Linked DNA regions of Homo sapiens. The protein of the gene in region 2 purifies or fractionates together with the protein of the main gene of each other region. This does not show direct contact. Each region holds a gene or a part of one and is shown on either strand. Other genes may lie near its edges.

Evidence for each region.
Region 1: the proteins of NAA40 (region 2) and RNF112 purify together in Homo sapiens (affinity purification with mass spectrometry; 2 studies listed by BioGRID, with this or other methods). This does not show direct contact.
Region 3: the proteins of NAA40 (region 2) and ANGEL2 purify together in Homo sapiens (affinity purification with mass spectrometry; 2 studies listed by BioGRID and IntAct, with this or other methods). This does not show direct contact.

Annotation. Positions count from the first base shown.
Region 1 is NC_000017.11:19,414,208-19,417,897, forward strand, and holds the end of RNF112 (RING finger protein 112), read left to right. Parts: intron 1-241; coding exon 242-298; intron 299-378; coding exon 379-453; intron 454-538; coding exon of another isoform or gene 539-562; coding exon 563-680; intron 681-830; coding exon 831-1,000; intron 1,001-1,078; coding exon 1,079-1,132; intron 1,133-1,310; coding exon 1,311-1,385; intron 1,386-1,497; coding exon 1,498-1,968; 3' UTR 1,969-3,069; downstream 3,070-3,690. UniProt on the Homo sapiens protein: E3 ubiquitin-protein ligase that plays an important role in neuronal differentiation, including neurogenesis and gliogenesis, during brain development.
Region 2 is NC_000011.10:63,936,726-63,940,470, reverse strand, and holds the start of NAA40 (N-alpha-acetyltransferase 40), read right to left. Parts: upstream 1,470-3,745; 5' UTR 1,375-1,469; coding exon 1,369-1,374; intron 1,141-1,368; exon of another isoform or gene 937-1,140; intron 1-936. UniProt on the Homo sapiens protein: N-alpha-acetyltransferase that specifically mediates the acetylation of the N-terminal residues of histones H4 and H2A.
Region 3 is NC_000001.11:213,013,816-213,017,560, forward strand, and holds the start of ANGEL2 (protein angel homolog 2), read right to left. Parts: upstream 2,053-3,745; 5' UTR 1,857-2,052; coding exon 1,798-1,856; exon of another isoform or gene 1,794-1,797; intron 1,693-1,793; exon of another isoform or gene 1,559-1,692; coding exon of another isoform or gene 1,411-1,558; exon of another isoform or gene 1,334-1,410; intron 1-1,333.

The DNA.
Region 1 (3,690 bases), on a different chromosome or scaffold from region 2:
AAAGGAACTAGGTGCCCTCCTGGTCTGGCCTAGGGTTTTATGACACTTGAACAGGGTTGAAGGGGGAGGGTGGAGAGTAAAGCAAGAGATGTGTGGTCTGGGGAGAGGCAGGAGAACCCCAGGCTGCAAAAGGGGGAGCCTAGCTCCTACAGCAGGCGTAGGGAGGTGGGGAGACAGGCTTGGGGTGCACCATAGTCCTCAAAGTGGCCCAGCCCTGACGCTTTCTGTGTCCCACCCCCAGATGTTTGTCCACGTGGCCGAGGTGATGGGCAAGCATTATGGGATGGTGCCAATCCAGGTGAGACACCTATCTCTGGATTCATTGGCCCCAGGCCCCGCCACCCCCATTTGCTGGTGTCAGGACCCCTTCTCTTTCAGCATCTGGACCTCTTAGTTCGTGACTCATCCCACCCCAACAAGGCAGGGCAGGGGCATGTAGGCAACATCTTCCAGGTGAGTGGTGCAAGGGGATGGGGTGGAGGGGCCATGGACAGGGCAGAGGTGGGGAAGACATGGGAGGCTGGACCTCCTAGCTCAGAGCACTCCTCTCGCTGCCTCACAGAGATTGTCTGGCAGATACCCCAAGGTGCAGGAGCTGCTGCAAGGGAAGCGAGCCCGTTGCTGCCTCTTGCCTGCCCCAGGGAGGCGGCGGATGAACCAAGGCCATGCAAGCCCTGGTGGTGAGTGTCTCTGAGAGCTGAACCTCTCTTGCGCTGCTCCCAGCTCCCCTCCGGCAACCGAGCCCCTTGAAGCACCCACCTCTCCTGGCCTCTGACACCCCTTCTCCTCCCAAAGCCCGCAGTCTCTCAGCATGCACATCTCTCCCTCAGACACAGATGATGACTTCCGCCACCTTCTGGGGGCCTACGTCTCAGATGTGCTGAGTGCGGCCCCCCAGCACGCTAAGAGCCGCTGCCAGGGGTACTGGAACGAGGGGCGCGCCGTGGCCAGGGGGGACAGACGCCTACTCACGGGGCAGCAGCTAGCTCAGGAAATCAAGGTGTGAAAACTCCCTGGAGACCCAGGCGACTCGGCTGGGCCCCTGCTCTCCCTGACCCCAGCGATGGTATCTCCGCAGAACCTCTCAGGATGGATGGGGAGGACAGGGCCCGGTTTCACCTCTCCGGATGAGGTATGAGCGCTGGGGGATCCAGCATTCTGGCAGGGAGACAGGGGAGGCAGGGAGGTGGGGGCTGTGCCGAGGCCTCCGGGGTGGGGGTCTGTGTGCCCTGGGAGTGGAGATGAGGAAACAAGCAGCGCCCCTGGCTGAGAAGGAAGGAAGGAGGCAGCCTGGGTTTTCCCGTGGACAGATGGCTGCTCAGCTGCACGACCTGAGGAAGGTGGAAGCTGCCAAGAGGGAGTTCGAGGAGTATGTGAGGCAGCAGGTGAGCCCCGGGGCTGCACGGGAGGCAGGTGTGGGCCGGGCAGGGTCCAGATCAGGGAGAGGATACCTGGGACTCCTGGTCAGGGCACCTTCTTTTCCCCTCCCTGTCACAGGACGTAGCCACCAAGCGCATATTCTCTGCGCTGCGGGTCCTGCCAGACACCATGCGGAACCTCCTCTCCACCCAGAAAGATGCCATTCTGGCCCGCCATGGTGTGGCCTTACTCTGCAAGGGGAGAGATCAGACCTTGGAGGCACTGGAAGCTGAGCTGCAGGCCACGGCCAAGGCCTTCATGGACTCCTACACGATGCGCTTCTGTGGCCACCTAGCTGCTGTGGGGGGTGCTGTGGGGGCCGGGCTCATGGGCCTGGCAGGGGGCGTGGTGGGTGCTGGCATGGCAGCAGCTGCACTGGCTGCAGAGGCTGGGATGGTGGCTGCTGGAGCTGCCGTGGGGGCCACAGGGGCCGCTGTGGTTGGGGGTGGCGTGGGTGCTGGGTTGGCTGCCACAGTGGGCTGCATGGAGAAGGAGGAGGATGAGAGGCTTCTGGAAGGGGACCGAGAGCCCCTTCTCCAGGAAGAGTAACAGCCCCAGGAGGTATTGAAGGACAGGAGAGATGTCAGGTGGGGATGAAGAAGAGGGGCAGGTCGGGGGAGGGTGATGCCAGGGATTCCAAGGCACCGCCATGTACTGCACTGCCCTGGTCGAATGCTCGGTGTCTGGGTGGCAGCTGAGCTGGGACTCAAGGTGGCTCTTGGAACCTGGGAGGCAGCATCTGGGGGCAGTGGATAGAACACCCGGCCTGTTTCTGGTTGCAGATGGTTGCCGATCTGCCCTTGTCACAGATAGGCTACATCCCAGGGTTTCTGGCTGCAAGTGAGACTCCACCCTCCCCACCTGGCTCATTTCCCCGATGACCCTGGATTGTAGGAAAGTTAAGCAGGCACCATCCTGGAAGTCTACCCCTAGGTGGTCGAGAGACCTGTTCTTTCACAGATGTGAGAAGCCCCAGGATGATTGACCATGGTGTTCAGGAGCGGGGAGCACTGATGAGGTGCTGGGGATGACAGGAAGGAAGGAACACTGGGCAGAACCAGAGAGATGGGACATGGTAGACTGTGGCCCAGACCCCAGAGCAGAGAAACTTGTTCCCATGACCCTTCCCAAATCTGCTCCAGCAGGACTAAGGTGGCTTTCCCACTCCTGGCCCACAGCCCCAGAGAGCCTGTCTGTGCATCCTGAACCACTCTTTGCTGGGCCTCCGCAAGGGCCTCTCTTGGGTCTGTGTCCTTTTTCAAGCCTGTTTAGATGGGGGAGTGCCCATGCCCTCTGTGAAGTGCCCAAATGCGAAAGAATAACACCTTTTCTTGCATTCTGAGCTAAGCCAGACAGCCTTTATACTAGATTCTATCAAAATCTTGCAAAGGAAAACAAAATGAACAACTTCTACCCTTAAACACATCCTTTCTCCCCTGGGCTTGTAAGAAGATGCAGCTTGATGCAGCTCCTCAAACACCAGGCCCCCTGGGAACTGGGGGTGCGGGAGTTCTCCCTCTGGGGGACAGAAAATCTGACTACTAGGAAGACTTCTAGGCTATGAAACTGACTTCTAGGCTATGAAACTTACAGGGTATGGGTGGGCACATTATCCTTTATTTTATGAAAAATAAAATGTGTGTATGTGAATGTCAGCTTCCCAGTATATTATTGAAACAGAATTTAACCCTCAGATGACTTCATGGTGGGAGCAGGTGAACCAATGAGATCCATTGCTGGAATGCACAGATGGGAAGAGGGAGATTGGAATTCAAGAGATCCAAGGAAGTGAACGTCAGAGGTCCCCATTCAGTGGCTGCAAGAGGCCTCAGGCCAAGGCCAAGTGGATATGGGCACCTTTGCAGGCTCTTCCACTAGGACTTGGGGTTCCGCTCCTCTTGTCTCCTCTCTGAGAAACTGCTTCCCATGATCCTGTCAACAGGCAGTCAACAAGCACCTGTCCCAGCAAGAGGACAGAATGGATACATAAGCAGAGAGAACTTGGTCAAGCCTTGAAGGAAGGAGAAGCCCAGGACCACTTCTGCAGGGCTCAGCCAGCCAGGAGTTCACCCAACTGATTCTCCTCCCAGCCCTGCTCCCCAGCTCCCCAGCTCCCCATCTCAGAACCACAGCAGTAGTCACTGCATCCAATCCTGGCATTTTATAGGTGCACACCCAGAGAGAGAAAGTCTCAGATAAGCCTGTGCAGCTGCTGATGACAGAAGCAGGGGAACCCCGAAGTCCTGGTTCCCAAGCTGGTGCACTTCCTGA
Region 2 (3,745 bases):
GGCCAACTCACTGGCACACTATTATACCACCAGCAGCGAAGACGGGGCTGGAAGTGAGGTACCTCGGGCTCCAAAGTCAGGGTTCCCTTAAGGTGATGGAAATTCCATGTAAATACTAATATAGGCCTGTGTGGTGGCTCACGCCTGTAATCCCAGCACTTTGGGAGGCCTAGGCGGGTGAATCACGAGGTCAGGAGTTCGAGACCAGCCTGGCCAACGTGGTGAAACCCTGTCTCTACTAAAAATACAAAAATGAGCCGGGCATAGTAGCGGGCGCCTGTAATCCCAGCTGCTGGGGAGGCTGAGGCAGGAGAACCGCTTGAACCCAGAAGAAGGAGGATGCAGTGAGCCGAGATCGCGCCATTGCACTCCAGCTTCGGCGACAAGAGCAAAACTCCATATCAAAAAAAAAAAAAAAAAAAAAAAAAAAGAATACAGCCAATACTAGGAAAAGCGTTATCTTTTTAGGAGGGTGACTGATACTGCTGTAATTGAGACTTAGTAAGGTGAACGCACAGAAACTTGCAAATAACTTCTGCCCTACCCTATATCCCGGGAAAGTAAACTAAAATGCACCTCCAGGCTGCCGGCACGGAACAAGTGGTCAATATCCATCCGCGGCTGGGCCGCCGCCCCCGCCTCCCCGCATCTTCCCCGCACACCTGCACAGCCCTCCCCTTGCAAAAAACACCTGCACTACCAAAACCCCTAACAACCCAAGCGGTCGTAAGAACCATTTCATTGCAACCAGGAGGCGTCGAAGGCAGGAGTCTATGGGAAAGGAAGGCTGTGTTTATCAGGAGCAGCAGGAACCTGGTGGAGAGGTTTCGAAAGAGTGTAGGGGAACCGGCTTCGCTGAGACTCGAGTAACGGGAAGGGCAGTGGACTGGGATTCGGGAGGCCCAAGGTGGGGTCTGACGCCCCCGACAATATGACCTTGGCTAGGCGCCTTCTTTCCTCTGGGCCTCAATTCCCTCCAAGCCAGGGTTGACCTCGGATGTGAAAAGCGACGAAGCTGGTGACAGCCAGGTGATGAGTGACCCTGGGGGAGCGGGAAGCTAACCCCAGGGTCCCCGCGGGGGACGGTGGTGGGGAGGCCAGTAACGGGTCCGCGAAGCAGGAAGGGGCGGGCGTGACGCTGGGGGCGCCGAGGGGGTGGGGCCCCGGACCAGGGGCTCTCCAGAGGATTCCCGGGCTAGGCCTAGCGTAGGGACCCTTAGAATGGGGGAGTCGGGTCATGTGGGGGTCAGGGGTCACGTGAGGCTGGAGGGGGTCGGGGTCACGTGAGAGGGGGGTTTAAGAACAAAGGGGGCGAGGGTAGCGAGGAGCGCCCCTGGACCTCCCATCTCCTCTCTCTGCCTCACTCACCCCCATAGCGGCGGCGACAACGCTCAGCTTCTTCTTCACACACTTGCCGGCAGGGAGGCGGCAACGGCGGTGGCTGCAACAGCGGCGGCAGCAGAGCGGACGGCCCTGCAACGCGCATGCGCCTCGCAGCTTCCCCCCCCCCCCCCGCCCAACCGCGCGCCCTCGTACCGCGCCGGCGCAGAACCGGCGCAGGGCAGCGGTGAGCCGGCGCGCAGGTGGAGCGCCCGCTAGGCTGGCCGAGGGTCTCCGACCAGGAGGAGGCGGGAGCGCGGAGGAGCGTCGCGCCGGGAATGACGTGCGGCCAGAGCCCGCCCCCTCGCAGGGCTGCGTCTGTAACTATGGCAACGGCGGCGCCAGGCCTGGCTGCTCACCCAGGCCGTGAGTCGCGCGCCGCTGGGGGCCGGGTGGTTGGCAGCACCTCCCCTGCGGCCAGCGACTCCTTGGCCCCGCGCGTAGCAGCCGGCGGCACAGCCACCTTCCCAGGCGGCCAATCGCGTCTCGACCTCTAAAGTACCTGCCCCTCCAGAGCCCTAGCGCGCGTAGCGGAAGTCTTTGGAAACTTTCCCACCTTCCAGATCTTGACTCTTGAAATTCCTTTTCTAACCAGAGTCCTGTTACTCATTCATTCGTCTTCTAACCATTCATTCCCCCTCATTCATTCACGTTCTCAATAAAAATTAACTCGCATCTACGCGGTGCTGAGCCCAGGGGGCACAGAGAGGAGCGAGGTGCCATCTCAGCGCCACACCTCAGGGTTTAGAGGGGAGACGGGCACGTAAGCACTGTTTAGGAGAGAGTGGACAGTGCTGTTAGCGTGAACACCAGGCATCCCGGAAAGTTTTAATTTCAACCCATCCCCAGCACACCGGAGTGACCCGCACGTGACCCGAATCCAAACCGCCGGGGGCGCTTCCGCAGTGTGCACACCTCTGCCAACCTCCCCCAGAATCTCCAGGGGTGGAGCCAGAGTCTTCACTTCCTAGTGCTCCCCAGGTAGGGAGCGAAAATTAGTGAAATGCTTCAAGACGAAAATTAGTGAAATGCTGCCCAACACTTAAGCTTCATGGACTTTTTCAGGTTTTGCTCATTATTCCATCTTTTTGTTTTTTTAAGAGACAGGGTCTCGCGGTCGCCCAGGCTGGAGTGCAGTGGTGCAATCACAGCTCACTGCAGCCTCGACCTCCTGGGCTCAAGCGATCCTCCCGCCTCAGCCTCCTGAGTAGCTGGGACTACAGGTGTGCACTACCATACGCAGCTCAATTTTTATTTATTTTTTGTTGAGATGGGGTCTCACTGTGTTACACAGACTGGTCCCAAACTCCTGGGCCCAAGCGATCCTCCCACTTTGGCCTCCCAAAGTGCTAGGATTACAGGCGTCAGCCACTGTGCTTAGCCTCATTATTCCAACTTTAGTGCTCAGTACAGTGGTGGCCTCAACAACATTTATCCAGTGCCTACTGTATGCTAGGCACTGTTCCAAGCAGCAAGGAAAACAACAATAAGAAACAGAATAGGCACCACCCTTGTATCCTAGAAGGAGGAGACCGATAATAGATGAAATAAATAGGTAATATACATAGTTAGTTAAATGATACAGGCTCGGCCGGGCGCGGTGGCTCACGCCTGTAATCCCAGCACTTTGGGAGGTAGAGGCGGGCGGATCACGAGGTCAGGAGATCGAGACCATCCTGGCTAACACAGCGAAACCCCGTCTCTACTAAAAAAATACAAAAAATTAGCCGGGCAGGGTGGCGGGCACCTGTAGTCCCAGCTACTCGGGAGGCTGAGGCAGGAGAATGGCGTGAACCCGGGAGGCGGAGCTTGCAGTGAGCCGAGATTGTGCCACTGCACTCCAGCCTGGGCGACAGAGAGAGTCTCAAAAAAAAAAAAAAATGATACAGGCTCTAGAAGGAAGAAAAAGCAGGGAGAGAGCACAGGGAAGGTCAAGATTTATAGTTGTGGCCTGGCGCAGTGCCTCACACCTGTAATCCCAACACTTTAGGAGGCTGAGATGGGCGGACTGCTTGAGCTCACGACTTTGAGACCAGCCTGGGCAACAGAGTAAGATCCTGTCTCTGCAAAAAAATTTAAAAATAAAAAAAAATTAGCCAGGCGTGGTGGCGTGTACTTGTGGTCCCAGCTACTCTGGAGGCTGAGGTTAGAGGATTGCTTGAGCCCGGGAGGTGAAGGTTGCAGTGAGCCGATAGCGCCACTGAACTCCAGCCTGGGTAACAGAGCCAGACTCGGTCTCAAAAAAAAATAAAATAAATAAAAGCTTGGCGCAGTGGCTCACACCTGTAATCCCAGCACTTTGGGAGGCCGAGGCAGGCAGATCACGAGGTCAGGAGATCGAGACCATCCTGGCTAACACCATGAA
Region 3 (3,745 bases), on a different chromosome or scaffold from region 2:
TATCACACTACAATTAAAGTAAACCTCTCCTCCAACTTGGAGTAATAACAAGTTTCTGAACAGTTTTTTATACCAAGGGCAGATTTTTCCAAACACTTGTATAGTTAGGAAAACAAAAGCCTATCCACAACTTCATAAATTCACAAAACTACTTCTCTTACTAATCAACGGGTGGATAATTTATTTCTCCATTCTTTTTTAAGCATGATTCTCGTTGGGGGAAATGAAAGAGGATGGGGATGACGTACTACGAATGCACCAACACTCCAAACCAACAGCTTCAATTTAACCCATCATCCAAAACATCTCCAAAGTGGCGCTAACATTTTTAATAGGTATGTTGCTCTCAGGCTCTCAAGAAACACTTCAGCTTAATAAAGCACCATGTTCCTCTCACTATACTACTTTGGCAAAATGTTAAGATTCAGAGAAGGACTTTTATCCTTTCCTCCAAAATTCTTAACAGCTACATTTCTACCACAGCATCAATAATGTGCGCTCCCATCCCTAAGGGAATTTTGTTTAAGTTGCGTTTACTGTTATTTAACTTTATACGCTGTTATTCTCGTTTTAACAGCATTTAAATTTTTATTATAATTTTTACAGTTTAAGTATTCGCTAGTTGTTCTCTAAAATCTACTTAATTGTAAATCTTTAAAGGCATAACATGGGCATTCTACACTGCTTTGTGATAACTCTGAAAGCCATAGGAATTTGGGCACTTGGTCCATGCATTTTCTATGCTAATAAGCCACTGTATTGAAATATAATACTTGTACTACAAAAGCTATTATCTATATTTGCAGTTATTTATTCAGACTTTTTTTTCTCTTAAGATGTTAAGCTCCTTCAGGGCCAGAACAGAACCGTCTTATTCATTTTAATTCCGTTATCTTCACAAGTGCCTAGCACAGTGCCTGGCAAACAGCTGGTACTCAGGAAACATTGTTGAACTGAATTACCATCAAGTCCCAGGCCTATGGGAGTTACAACCAAATCCCCATCGCTTATGTAATAATACATGCTGTGTTTCCCAAGCGTGGTGGGTGGTACACGAGTCGGTTTCACAGAGTACACAGTTAAATTACTTGATTGTAATTTCTAAATACTTATGTTAGTTTATTAGGAAAAAACATAATCGCACATCAAATCCAAGACTCTGCAGACACTGCTTAGGGTGAAGCTAATGTGGGCAGCACCTACTGAAGTGCTTTTTAAAAAAAACTGAGTCAATTTAAAGAAAAATATCCAGTAAATAATACACGTGAAACAAGAACTTGGCCATAACAGTAAGGGATGACATACAAGTGACTAAAGTTTGAAAGACACTAACACATCAACAAAAATCAAGCCCCTCCTGGGCGTGTGCCACACACGCGCCTCCAAGGGATCAGGCCCGCCGAGACCTACTGCGGAGAGGCGGCCTCCCCGCCGACGCTCGGTTCCCGGGACGGTGCTGCGGAGTGTGTGGAGCAGGCCAGCGCTGGTCTGGAGGCTGGGTTGGGGGAAGCAGGCCAGGGATCCAAAGCCACTGGCACAAGCCTGGCCGGCGGCCCATGAACTCCGCGCCAAGACCCCAGACCTCGTTGGCCCAGCGTCCCGCCAGCTGCGCGGCGGGTTTACCTATCCCGCTTGGTCTCTGGAGGCTCGTCCCGGATGCACCATCGCCCAGACCCTCTTCCTCTTCCTTCCACCCCTAGCCCGCCCCGCCCCGCCCCGGGTTAGTCCCGGACGCCCGCCCGCTCTTTCAGGCCGCCCGCCCCTCTCTCCTCCCTCCGAGTACCCAGCCCTACTGACCGGCCTCTTCCCACCACACAGTGGCCGTAGCCCTTCCTCACACAGCGCCAGGCTTCCATCTTCGCCCTCCGCGTGCGTCCAGTTCCCAGGCCCCGGGTTCCACCTCAATCTCTATAATCGATGCGACGGCCTAAAGTATCTAGGGAACCCCATCACTCTTAAGTACCGACTCCAGTCCTGGCTGCAAGGCATGCTGGGAGGTGCAGTCTCGCCGGCCGGCCTACACTCCATCTTGCGCAGTCAGAGTCCCTGAATGCCTTAACCCGGAATTCTGCTCAAGGAGCATGCGCAGAGCGTGGGACGCGCGTGCAACCATTTCTGAAGAGGGCAAAACACCCGAACTTCGTCTTAAAGAAACAGAAATAAACTTTCTTTTTTTTCTTTTTCTTTCTTTCTTTCTTTTTTTTTTTTTGAGATGGAGTTTCGCTCTTGTCGCCCAGGCTGTAGTGCAATGGCACGATCTCGGCTCACTGCAACCTCCACCTCCCGGGTTCAAGCGATTCTCCTGCCTCAGCCTGCCAAGTAGCTGGGATTACAGGCATGAGCCACCACACCCGGCTAATTTTTGAATTTTTAGTAGAGACAGGGTTGCACCATGTTGGCCAGGCTGGTTTCGAACTCCTGACCTCAAGTGATTCGCCCGCCTCGGCCTCCCAAAGTGCTGGGATTACAGGAGTGAGCTACCGCGCCCGGCAGAAATAAACAGAGCAGTGAAAATTTTTAATTGCCCAAAGTGCAGATTCCCAGCTGAGGCTGAACAACGCATCCTCTGGGTGCCCATGGAACTGAGGTACCACAGAATTTTGCAATTAATGTTGCGGAAGCACAGCCATAGCTCTCACTTTAAAATGTACGTGTATGGGCCGGGCGCGGTGGCTCACGCCTGTAATCCCAGCACTCTGGGAGGCCAAGGCGGGCGGATCACGAGGTCAGGAGATCGAGACCATCCTGGCTAACACGGTGAAACCCCGTCTCTACTAAACATACAAAGAATTAGCCGGGCGTGGTGGCGGGCGCCTGTGGTCCCAGCTACTCGGGAGCCTGAGGCAGGAGAATGGCGTGAACCTGGGAGGCAGAGCTTGCAGTGAGCAGAGATCGAGCCACTGCACTCCAGCCTGGGCGACAGAGCGAGACTCCGTCTCAAAAAAAAAAAAAAAAAAAAAAAAAGTACTTGTATGTCTTGTGTGTCCACCTTTATTAAATGTATTATAGGACTGTAGATTGTTGAAAGACATTATTTAAGTGGAGACCCTGCAAGAAACAGGAAGAGAGAAACCGAGAAAGAATAAAGTGTGGAGAGTAGAGGGGAAAAGGATACTAGAAGGCAGGAGCACTGCTTTTATAGGCTCTTTGAAACAGTGGTAATTTCTTGGGAAGGCTTTTCTTATCCCTGGTGCATAAAAGGAAGTAAAGTGTATTTGAAAAAAACCTTTCCCTCAGTATGTAATTGATTCTTGTTATTTGCAGTAGTTAGGTTCTGTAAAGTTGCTGGAAACACTGAATTAGTAAATACTGAATCATTACTCCTAAGGGAAATACAGGATTAGGATCCTGTAAGCCTCTGGTCGCATTTTCATCAACTTAATCAATACATAGTTTTGTTGTATGTGTGTTTCCGCTTAAAGACATCTTATTTAATATATATTGTTGATTCATTAACATTGAACTCAGTCAACAGCACTATAATTCATACCTCAACAAAGCTTATCTAACACTGCTATTTTCTCTGCAAGGCTCATGACAGCCTTCTTGTGCTTAGGAGCACTATACAGCACAACGCTTGGGGACCATTTTAAACAGCAACATCAACAAAAAGTACAAAAACGTGAAAAACATATCACTAAATGGAATGTGAAAAGGACACTTGGTCCTGATGGCTCACGCCTGTAATCCCAGCAATATGGGAGGCCAAGGCGGCTGGATCGCTTCAGCCAGGGAGTTCAAGACC